Linked DNA regions of Homo sapiens. The protein of the gene in region 1 purifies or fractionates together with the protein of each later gene. This does not show direct contact. Each region holds a gene or a part of one and is shown on either strand. Other genes may lie near its edges.

What was found. The genes of interacting proteins can lie anywhere in the genome.
Region 2: the proteins of MSR1 (region 1) and COLGALT2 purify together in Homo sapiens (affinity purification with mass spectrometry; 2 studies listed by BioGRID and IntAct, with this or other methods). This does not show direct contact.

The regions. Positions count from the first base shown.
Region 1 is NC_000008.11:16,107,347-16,112,651, reverse strand, and holds the end of MSR1 (macrophage scavenger receptor types I and II isoform type 1), read left to right. Parts: intron 1-2,433; coding exon 2,434-2,567; 3' UTR 2,568-4,771; downstream 4,772-5,305. UniProt on the Homo sapiens protein: Membrane glycoproteins implicated in the pathologic deposition of cholesterol in arterial walls during atherogenesis. Two types of receptor subunits exist.
Region 2 is NC_000001.11:183,936,703-183,943,736, reverse strand, and holds part of COLGALT2 (procollagen galactosyltransferase 2), read left to right. Parts: intron 1-2,949; coding exon 2,950-3,156; intron 3,157-4,699; coding exon 4,700-4,976; 3' UTR 4,977-7,034. UniProt on the Homo sapiens protein: Beta-galactosyltransferase that transfers beta-galactose to hydroxylysine residues of collagen.

The DNA.
Region 1 (5,305 bases):
TTATCTCATTGGTTTACACAAGGATAAAATTTTATGAATTTTATACTATCTGCATTAACTTTTTAATGCAGAAAACAATTTGGAATGAGACGGAAAATGTGTATTAAATAAATTTTTCCCCTGGGCTCAATAGTCTTGAATATATTAATATAAAAATAAAACAACAAATCTTTGGAAATTACTTCTATAATTCTATCTAGACATCTATGTAACCCATGAATATCACTAAGCTTTAAGTGTCATCATGTTCTGTTGCCTGGATCTATTCTTTGTAAATTTGAGAAAGTCATACACCCTTTCTCAGTCTCAGTTTATGTATCTATGAAATGGAGATAATTATCATTATTTAACAAGGTTATTATAAAAAGTAAATTTAGAAATGTATGTGAAAAGACCTAGCATATTACCTTATACACAAGCACTTAAAAAATTTTCACTGTGTCTGAAACTGTTCCACATAGCAAAAGACAGAGATACCAAATTCCACAATACATTTGTCACATCCATGTGTCCTCAGAGGAAAAATAACCAGAATAAGAATCAGAGGCTCTAGATGCCAGTATTTGCTCTGGCATGATTGTATATGTGATCTCAGTTGCTTCATCTACCTAGAACATAAGCCCTCCCAGGAAGTCAGTCCACAAGAGTATGGAGTTTGGTCTTGTTCACTCGTGTAGGCACCAAAGGAGATTTGCTAAATAAGTAAGTCTAATAATGAAGGAGGTTGCAGTAAGTCATTGATTTAAGGCAGTGGCTCAGGGTGGATACAGGGTGAGAATCCTGTGCGACTTTGAGCACGTACAGTTCCTTATCCTTGCTGATTTTCAGTTTCCTCAACAGTAAAATGACACAATAATGGCATTCAGTTTTTGAAAGTTATTTGAGGATTGCATGGAATAATACATCACATGTATAAGTGTTTCCTGCCACATAAGAAATTCTTAAAAGACTGGACTTAAATTTTCATTATCAGGACCACAACCTTGGTATTCTAACATTCGTGAATTCCCTTACTGCAATTTCTAAAAACATGTGCTTACATGTCAGCACATTAGTCAACTAAATAATTTCTTTCCTTTGCTATTCATGTTGGGATGGCCTTGCTGGTGCTGTAGACATTGGGAGAATTCCCACTCTCAGTTTCCTTTTCCTGGATTGTACAAATTCTGCACTGCTGAAATCTAAATTCACTGAGTAGACCTACAAAATACAATTCGAAAGCATCACAGTAGCCCGGGTTCACAATTCATGGAGCCATTCTCGCACTCTCCAAATTATGACAGAGCCATGGCTTTCACCAAAAGTTTAATTTCTGTTTGTTTATACAATTTATAAATGACAATAAATATAATAGATATAATTTATAAATGTCTCGTACTTCGGCTTCCTCCTGTATTAACATGGGAATAGTCTTACTATTTGTGCAATTGTTTTTATTTGCCTGTATTTTTAAGTAGCCCTTTGAGGCTTTCAAAAAGTTTTTATAGACTTTATATACTTATAAGGAAACACAGATATACAAATACGTATACACATACAAACATGCTCACACATACAATCACAAACACAATAGGAAACATGCCATGCCTAGTAAGATAATTTGGGAACTAAAAAGTGTCCCTGGCAAGGTTTCTGATTTTGAGATCATATTCCTTTTTTCTTTTCCTTCTTCTGCCTTAAAATTTCAAGTAAAAAAGCCTCAATACTGTTATAAACACCTCAAAAAATACTTGGGCTCTCCAACTTACTGTTAACACTCTTACAATTGATCAGCTCAGGAAAACCTTTGCTTTGTCATTTTCTTGCTGTTTGTTTGTGTTTGCAATCAGTAGCATTCTTAATCCATGATTTCCTTACAGGATGGTGTGTAGGCCCTTTGCTGATTAGATTAGTTCTACTTTAATTAAAAACAGATAATGTATTTGATAAACCAGGCACACATAAATTGAAATACACGGGAAGATAACAAAAGGAGGAAGATGCTGATATTAAGTTTTCCTTTTTCCGGTTTATTTTATGTGCAAATATACCCCAAGACCCTTTGACATACAGATACGCTTGGATCATCAGGTTATTACATGTACCCATGATTATTAAGGCTCAAACTTTCTTCTTTATTTTTAGATTAATAATAAAACTAATTTGTCAAATCCTTAAAAAAACATTCTTAATCTCTACTTTTATAGAACTGTGTAGGTAACTTTGTTAGAGCTCTTCTTACTTTGCATTTTAGTAGTTTACATGTTAACAGAGTATAAAGTGTTCTGAAGCAGGAGATTAATTTTTGATTCCTACTAGAGAGCACAGAACTTGCATACAGAAAATAATCAACACTTTTTTGTTTAATTAGTGAAGGAATTAATGGCTTTGCCCCACTCAAAGAGAAACACTAAACTCTAAACTTACTAATGCAGTTATACCTCATTATTGCAGGTACTGGTCCAATATGGCTGAATGAAGTGTTTTGTTTTGGGAGAGAATCATCTATTGAAGAATGTAAAATTCGGCAATGGGGGACAAGAGCCTGTTCACATTCTGAAGATGCTGGAGTCACTTGCACTTTATAATGCATCATATTTTCATTCACAACTATGAAATCGCTGCTCAAAAATGATTTTATTACCTTGTTCCTGTAAAATCCATTTAATCAATATTTAAGAGATTAAGAATATTGCCCAAATAATATTTTAGATTACAGGATTAATATATTGAACACCTTCATGCTTACTATTTTATGTCTATATTTAAATCATTTTAACTTCTATAGGTTTTTAAATGGAATTTTCTAATATAATGACTTATATGCTGAATTGAACATTTTGAAGTTTATAGCTTCCAGATTACAAAGGCCAAGGGTAATAGAAATGCATACCAGTAATTGGCTCCAATTCATAATATGTTCACCAGGAGATTACAATTTTTTGCTCTTCTTGTCTTTGTAATCTATTTAGTTGATTTTAATTACTTTCTGAATAACGGAAGGGATCAGAAGATATCTTTTGTGCCTAGATTGCAAAATCTCCAATCCACACATATTGTTTTAAAATAAGAATGTTATCCAACTATTAAGATATCTCAATGTGCAATAACTTGTGTATTAGATATCAATGTTAATGATATGTCTTGGCCACTATGGACCAGGGAGCTTATTTTTCTTGTCATGTACTGACAACTGTTTAATTGAATCATGAAGTAAATTGAAAGCAGGACATATGAGAAAACTGACCATCAGTATATTTGTCCAGATAATTGGTGGATCAAAAATGCCACTTAACAGGAAGTTTAGTTTGTTATGCACTTTAAATGGAATAATTAGCTTGTTACAATTCTAGGACATGGTGTTTAAAATTTAAATCTGATTAATCCATTTTAACAAACAATGCAAACATCTTCAGTGCAGAAGGAAGAGTGGTTTCAACTGTTTGGAGTCTTTTATGAAGTCAGTCAACATTTACAACCAAAGGGCGGGGGGGGGGGTGGGGGGTGCGTCTTTAGTCCTAAAGGGACAATAACTCTGAGCATGCCCCAAAAAAGTAGTTTAGCAACCTTTTGTTGGTAGTCAACCCATCCCCAGGGCCATAGTGTAGAGTGTGAAAAGCTACCCTGAAACCCAGTAATTCTACCCTGAAAGTGACTGCCTGCAGAAAGACCAGCAGTTGATATTAAAGCGCAAATGAATTCAACCTCAGCCCTGAAAATAACAGAATTCTGAAGTTTCCTATGACTAATTCACAAAAAAAGTAATTGTAAACTAGTACTATTATGGAATTACTCTACTGTTCTTTCTTTAATAGTGGCAAATGAAAGCATAAGCTTAAGCATTTTTTCATATTCTGAAGTCTCACCACACATAATAACCAAGTGGTAGACTCACAGCCGTCCAACTTAAAAAGGCAAAACCTTACCTTGGAATTGGAATTACTGTAAACAGCCTACTGAAAATGCATTTTTATCATGTAACATTCTTCTACTTGTTTAACATTGCTGATTTTCTCTGGCAGCATAATTTTGTGGTTAAGAGAATGAATTCTGAATGTACACTTTCTGTCTCAAACCCTGGCTGTAATTTCAGCTAGTTAATAATTCTTTGTGTTCAGTTCCACTATCTAGGTATTTTCTTCAAAAGGTAAATACAATGGTTTCTGAAAGAATCATTTGCATTATCAGCCTGTTTGGGATGTCTGAGATCAGTGCCTCTGGGTTGTTAATACTGTATTGCTGTATGGTATATGTATGCTGATTTACTACTTATGCGTAAGTGGTATGCATGGGATGTCTGAAATCAGTGCCTATGGGTTGTCAATAGTATTAACTATTAGTGTTAACTGTTAGTATTAACTATTAGTATTATTAACACTAATAATAGTACTATTACTATTACTATTTTTATTTTAAAATAAAATTTACCTTTAAAATAATAATAGTACTATTGCTAGTACTAGTACTATTGCTATTACTAGTACTATTACTAGTACTAGTACTATGACACTGTTAATAGTACTATTAACAACCCATAGGCACTTGGGATGTCTGAGATCAGTGCCTATGGGTTGTTAATACTATATTGCTGTATGGTATATGCATGCTGATTTACCACTTATGCATAGATATATCTTTAATAAGTAATCTAAAAATCCTTTTTGTATTTGAGAGAATCTACTAAGTTCAGTCCAGTCAAGAAAAGAACCTAATAGCACCAATACAAATTGAGGACTTAATTTACTTTGGAATGTTGAATTGCATTTGTTCCATTAAAAAAAACAGAAATTTGCGATTTGGTTTTTTTGAAAAAATAGCTCAGCTGACCAGAATGAATGTATTCTACTTGTTGAGCCATCCAGCATCACGTTAAATGCAAAATGTATATATAAATAAAAGAAGAAGAAAAAAGAAAGACCAAAGGGATGTAGAAAATGAAGAATAACCATTAATATCTAAGGGCCAAACACATTCCACCTAAATTATCTAAATAGTTTCAAATCAAAACTTTCCATTTTTTCAAAACGTATAGACCATAGTAGTTTGTACTTAAGTAAAGCATTACATTAATTTGTAATGTGCCTATTACAAATAATATACAGTTGACCCTTGAACAATGCAGAGGTTGGGAGCACTGATCCCTTCACAGTGAAAAATCCACATATAACTTTTGACTCCCCCAAAACTTAGCCACTGAGAGCCTACTGGTGACCAGAATCCTTACCAATAACATAAATAGTCAATTAACCATTTTTGTATTACTAATAATGTCAACTAACACATTTTATATGCATGATGTACTGTATTCTTACAAAAAAATAAACTA
Region 2 (7,034 bases), on another chromosome or scaffold:
GTCAGCCAGGGAGCTCCTCTGTTGGGAAATGGGGCTGCACAAACATGAAGAACATGGACAACTAGATTTGGGGAAGGGTCTGAGGCTGATGCAGGAAAACCAGGCTCACCAAGGGAGTGCTGGCTCTGAGCTGACATTTAGTTAATGTTCTTTGTCTACTCTCTGGGAATTGAGTGGCTTCTGCTTTTTTCTTCCCTTCCCTTTCATTTTTCCTTCCCTTCCCTTTCATTTTTCCTCTCCCTCTCTCCCTTCCTCTTTCCTTTTTCTTCTTCCTCCTCTGCCTCCTCCTTTCTCTCTCTCATTTTCTTTTTAAAACAAATGACACTTTCAATTTCTCTCCAATGAAGCAGAAAGTTCCCAAGCATTGTGTTTGCTCCCAGCTGTGTGTCAAAGGCAATTCATCAACTCTGAGCCTGCTTCTTTGGAGCAGCTGCAGCAGAGGAGCTGTCCCTGCTTCTCCCACCCACAGGCGGTATTTAACTGTGGGCCCAGGTGGAATACTTGTTCCCTCAGAAAATGGGCCACTCTGAGCTCAGAAGAAACCTAGCAATGGCTCAACTAATGCGTCACTGTGTAATAAGACACCTATGCCCTGTCAGATTTCAGTCATGTGGTCATGTGGTTTGGTTTGGCATTCTGCACAGTCCCTTGAGATCACTGTTTCTTCCTATATCCTCCAGAAGTCGCTGCACTTCAGCCTTTCTCAATGGATGGCTCCGCAGCCTGTGGTTAAGGCCTCACAGGCCTGGAAGCTACTTGATGTCCACGTGACTTGTATAAAGGCAACTTCACTTAAGCCTCATAATCACAGAAGACTGAGCCCAGAGAATCTAAGGTTTAGAGCTGGCATACGTTCCCGTTCACATGTAGTTCGGTGGGTGCATTTCTCAGGACAAAGTACCGACAGATGCAAGAAGGAAGAACAGTTGTCTTGATAAGGATACAGGAAAAAAATGTTTTCTAAATTTCACAGGTTGATCAAGTCAAAATATCCCCTTAAAATCTATTATATAGTCTTAAAGAACTGTAACAGTTTTAAATTGTACCTGTTATTTTCTAAAACAAAAAAGAAACAAATGTTACTTAAACCTAAAACATGAAAGGTAATAAGCTGTTCATGATTGCCACATTACATCTTTCCAGGAAAAGAAAATAATAAAAGGGAAGAATAGAACAAGTCATTGGAATCATTGAGGGAGTGTTGTTCAATAGAAATATAATGCAAGCCACATATGTCATTTTCAGTTTTCTAGTAATCACATTAAAAAGGTAAAAATAAATTAGACTAAATTAGTTTTAATACATTTTATTTAACAAAAATATCCAAACAGTATCATCATTTTGGTATGTAATTAATATTTTAAAACCATTAATGACATAGTTTACCTTCTTTTTTTTTTTGTACCAACTCTTCAAAATCTGGTATGTATTTTACACTTAGAACACCTCTCAATCCAGAAGCTAAATTTTCAGCTGTTTAAGTAAACTGGGCTGGGCGCAGTGGCTCACGCCTGTAATCCCAGCACTTTGGGAGGCCGAGGCGGGTGGATCACGAGGTCAGGAGATCGAGACCATCCTGGCTAACACGGTGAAACCACGTCTCTAGTAAAAATACAAAAAATTAGCCGGGCATGGTGGCGGGCTCCTGTAGTCCCAGCTACTCAGGAGGCTGAGGCAGGAGACTGGCATGAACCCAGGAGGCGGAGCTTACAGTGAGCTCAGATTGCACCACTGCACTCCAGCCTGGGCGACAGAGCAAGGCTCCATAAAAAAAAAAAAAAAGTAAACTGTCGTCCTACCAAAACAATGAACTTGTTTCATGGAAAAAATATATATATTTCACACAGCTTCAACATTTAAAATTAAATTAATTAAAGTTAGAGCATTAACTCAGCACCTCTATCACTCTAGTTCCTCTCAAGTGCTCGATAAGAGTTTCCCTTCCACTGGATGAGACACGAGAGAAGCTCAGACTCCGTAATCTGAAGAGAGAGTGGCTGGGGATATATGTTTGTTGTTCTCAGAAGAACTGAAGATTGAACATAGACTTGTTCTACAAATCCTGGGATGCTTTCACAAGGGGGAATCCCTTGAATGTTGAAAGAGATTGTTTTAGGGCAAAATAGAGGAAGTACTGCTTTACCTGGCAGGCAAGAAGGAGGCAACTCCTCAGGTTGCTCCAGTCAAGCCCAAATCAATAGGTTCCGGACAAAAGTAATGGAGCACAGATCCATGGGTAGACTAGGGAAGATGGGAGTGGCCAAAGGTGCATCCTGTGTTGTAGAAGTTGTTCACGGAGGACGGAAGGTGCCTGGGGGGCCTTTCTCAGAGCAGCATGTCTGGGAGGAAGCCTGGCCACAGCTGGACGAGTGTGAGGCAGGAGAATGCCTGTCAGGAGCTGTCATTCATCCTCCCCAAAAGGAACCCCTTAGGGCCACTCTTGGGTTCCCAGAACCTTCACTGCAGACTGACTCTTTCCCCCAGCTTATTTGGTCCTGTGTTTCCCACCAGCACTCGGAGTGCTGTGCAGAAGGCATCCAAGGCTGACACTCTGGGGACCTGAAGACAGCAGCCTCAGGATTCTCCCATCTGGCCTTTTTTTGTGCCTTTCCAACCTCTGTAAACACAGCTGGAAGCCCCATCCCATCTTTAAGAAATGATCTGAAAGATCTTTTAATCTTACGACATCTTACTTTCCGTCTTGAAAACCGTCCACTAGGCAGGAATAGTGGGGGTGTTGATAAATGGAGCTAGCAAAATGGCCCCAGTGATGGCAGATGGCAGTCCTGACTGGCGATTGGATCCACTTTTGGATGTGATACATCATTTAATGACAGACAGAGTCAGTCCAGGATTTCAGAGGTATCTATGTAAACCAAAGCTGTGCTTCATCCTTATCATGGCATAATAGTCAAGGTGGAATTTTTCTCCTCTGCCATTTCCTTACAGTTATATTGGTAGGAAGAGGATGCAAGTAAAGGAGCCAGAGAAAGCAGTGCCCAATGTGGCAAACCTGGTCGAAGCCGACTATTCCTACTGGACCCTGGGCTACGTCATCTCTCTGGAAGGAGCACAGAAGCTGGTTGGAGCCAATCCTTTTGGGAAGATGCTGCCAGTGGATGAGTTTCTGCCAGTCATGTACAACAAGCATCCCGTGTGAGTCTCCCTGAACTGCCTGCCTTCCCTTGGGCACAGCCTCTTCATGAATTATGCTCTCCATTTCTGGTAGTACTTGATATTTTCTAAAGTTGTACTGCTTTCCTAAATGATCTTCTCATAATTATGATTAAGAGAGCCTAACTCAGGTGATTTATCCCTTTGTACAGATGGGAAGGTGAGGCAGAGATGGTGAGTGTCCTGCCCAGAGATTCTTGTAATATCCAGTTTGTAGTTGAACTGAATGTAATGTGCTTGGTCCCCTCCTTGTCTTTGCTCTTCTTATTTCCATAACCTCATACACCTCAAGGTGAAGGCCATCTTCCTAAGCACCTCAAAATTTCCAGTTCCTTTGGCTCAGGTCATTGGGTACTGTTGGCTAAGCAGAGATACCCATTTTTGCATAGCTCACAATCTGGTCAGGAACCCAGACTCATGAACAAATCATCATGATATATTGTGATTCCTGCAATCGCAGGGGTGTGTAAGAGGTTCAGGGAGTGTGGACCTGATACCTGAGCATGATGTCCATGGAAGAAGGGCAGTGTGATGCTTGGGGCTCCCATAGCCCAGGAGCTTACCCTGACCTAGCGCTTATCAAAAGGTGTGGCAATTAATGATTTACCTGTCAATCTCCCCAATAAACTATAAACCCTTTGGGGCAGTAACAGTCTTATGCCTCTGTGTCCTTAGAGCCTAGTCCAAATGCTACACATAACAGCAGCTCCTAAATCATTAATGAATGATTCCTAAATTCATTGATGGAGCAGCATTCGTTCTAACCTTGGCCCCTTCTCTCAGTTGCTGGGTGATCTCGTCACTAGATGGTCTCATTTTAGCTGTTGAGATTTCCTGTGCTGCCACCAGTTCATTTTGTCTCTTGTCCTCAGTAAAAATGGAGTTGTGTGCCCTCTTGTATATAACATGTCAGAGACTGACTTTATCTCTGTGTCCTAGCAGAAACATGGAGGTCAAACCATTATCCCCTAAACAAAAGGGAAATTACTACATTCAGATGTCACCTCATGTACTCTGCACAGGAGCCCTGAGAGGGAGGCCAAGTCATCCGTCTCCTTTACACCTGTTGGAACCGGAGTGGTGAGCAGGGAGCTAGAGCACAAAGCCAAGCCTGCGTGCCTCTAAGCCTCCACGTGCCACATGCCCCATCACTGCTGTCCAGATGTGAGGTGTCTCATTTATTAATCCCAAAGCAGGGCATTTTTGGTGAAGTGATCGTATTTATTTATCATTATGGTCTAACAGGGCTTACTTTTTAACTTTTGGAGTCAGACCTGAAATTCATCTTTTAAACTAGTCTATTCAAATACGTCAGAAATGTCCTGATCTTTTTGCTTGGGAGCTTGTCTTTGGAAAGCTTTTAAAGAAATATTTGTGTTTGTAGGCTAAAGTTTTTCACAAATGACACAATTGAAATAATGAAATGAACTCATGAGGTAACCAGGAGGCCTCCTTCACTCTTTGTCCCTGTTCCGTAAGTCTCCTTTCCGCCCCCTCATGTGTCCGGCCACCTTCTTGTTTTCAGAGCCGAGTACAAGGAGTATTATGAATCCAGGGACCTGAAAGCCTTCTCTGCAGAACCCTTGCTCATCTACCCTACGCACTACACAGGCCAGCCGGGGTACCTGAGTGACACGGAGACCTCCACCATCTGGGACAATGAGACAGTGGCCACCGACTGGGATAGGACACATGCCTGGAAGTCCCGGAAGCAAAGCCGCATCTACAGCAATGCCAAGAACACAGAGGCCCTGCCACCGCCAACCTCCCTGGACACTGTGCCTTCAAGGGATGAGCTATGAAGGCTCCCTGGGAGTGTGGCCCACATCAGTTCAACATCCTCTGGTTTTTCTAAAGGGCTATTCATCTGTTTGCTCCAGTTTTCTGTTTTGTTTTGTTCTTAGTGGTCACAGTCATCTAACCAAAGTGATCTAGTGTGATAGATCGAAATTAACATATTTTTGACCATGGAAGGAAATAAGGAAATTCAACCCAAATTTCCCAAGACGGCTGAAAGACAGGTTTTTTGGAAACTGTTAAGATAAACTGTAATCCAGACACCTAATTCTTCAGTTCACTACTCATGTGATACTGATTCCCACATTAAGGTTGAACAACATGGCTCAGAGTCTTGTTCAAGAGAAAGTGATCACCGAGCTGTCACATCAGCAAATATGTAGTCAAGGCAGCCAGGCCAACTAGACCACACTTATTGGTCTAGTTTGTCCGTTTTATATGACATTGAAAACTTGTGTGTGCAACTTTTGGGGGACAGGAATCACTTAAAATCATATTTATTTGGCTTTTTATTTAAAGGATTCTGTCACAAGTCTTATTGAAAAGTAGATTTTTTAAAAAAAAAAAATCTTAGTCCCTGTTATCCAGTAGGGGTGGGTATTTGGGTCCGACTGAGACTTGGCCTGTGACCATCATGGCAGTTGGAGTTCTCATATAGAGGTGACCAGTTTGCCATGTGGATATAATTTAGTAGATATTTGACAGTTTGTGTAGGTATTTGAGGGAAAAAACTCAATGTTTGGCTTTTTTATTATGGCCACTCGAGTCAGGATGCTCTATTTATAAAGATAAATGTAATATATAAAGGGTGAGGACTGGCTGTGCATCCTGCCCTGTCCCGGGTTTGCGCGCTGCTACAGAGCTTCACGCTCTCCGCTCCACCCCTTAGCCTGGGAACCCACCGCAGGTGTGAGTTCTGTGAGTCACTGCTAAGAGACAGAGCACATTTTCAGGCCAGCAACTATCCTTGCCAGAGTTTTTTCATTATATTTTGAATTATTTATTTTACAAAATGGGCGAAGATATTGTCTTTAGGATAAGGCAGAGAAACAGATGTTGCAGACTTCCACGGCACCCGGGGGAGTGGTGGGTGTGGACACATTGGTTCGGCAATCTGATTCTCCTGAATTTCCCAGCCAGGCTCTTGTGGGGAGGCCTGTGGATGGGGGGATTTGAACTATTTGGAAACAAATGATTCTCTATCTCAGGTGAGAAACCTGGTCAGAAACAAAGGGCTGGTCACCTGATTTAGGCCAGCAACCAGGGAAGCTCTTAGAATCCCAGGCGGACACCCTTTCTCAAAAGATATCCCCTAAGAGTCCTTTCTGCTTTCTTCACAGATTGATTTTATGTAAAATGCAGAGTTGGACTACACGATTTCTTCCCACTCCACAATCTGTCATCCTAGTATAGATCATGGTGGTTTCCCTCAAGTTTATGTTCTCATGCCCTCAATCTGTAAATTTTTGTCTCCAGAAAAACCCTCCCAGGCATCCCATACCAGCACCGTTCCTCATCACTGTCCATGCACCATGCAGCCATATGGGGGGCCGTGCACACCCCAAACCCTGAGCTTCACACTTAAACTCATGGGGAGGGCCCTTCAGAGCAGAGTCCACAGGCGGGTGGTGCTACATACACAAGCTTAGTGTACGAGTGTAAGATACACTTTAAGCCAGACACCTAATTCTTCAGTTCACTGCCCATGTGATACTGATTGCCACATTAAGGTTGAACAGCATGGCTCAGAGTCTAGAGAAAGTGATCACCAAGCTGTCTCATCACCAAATAGGTAGTCAAGGCAGCCTCATCTCCCCAGGTGAGGGGCGGGTCCCCACTTTAGGACAAGAGGCAGCTTGCCTTCCACCAGACGCCAGCCTCGGCCTTCCTTCCCGACTCACTGTGGGTACCCTTCTACACTGACCAGCAAGCTAGGCCGCTGGAGGAAAGGGAACTCACCCAACTCTAAATTGTGCCGCTTAGACTTAGCTGTCAGTGTGACTTCCTTTCCCACCCACCCCCAGAAAAACAGAAAGAGCATCTGGGGAGCGAGTGAAAATTCC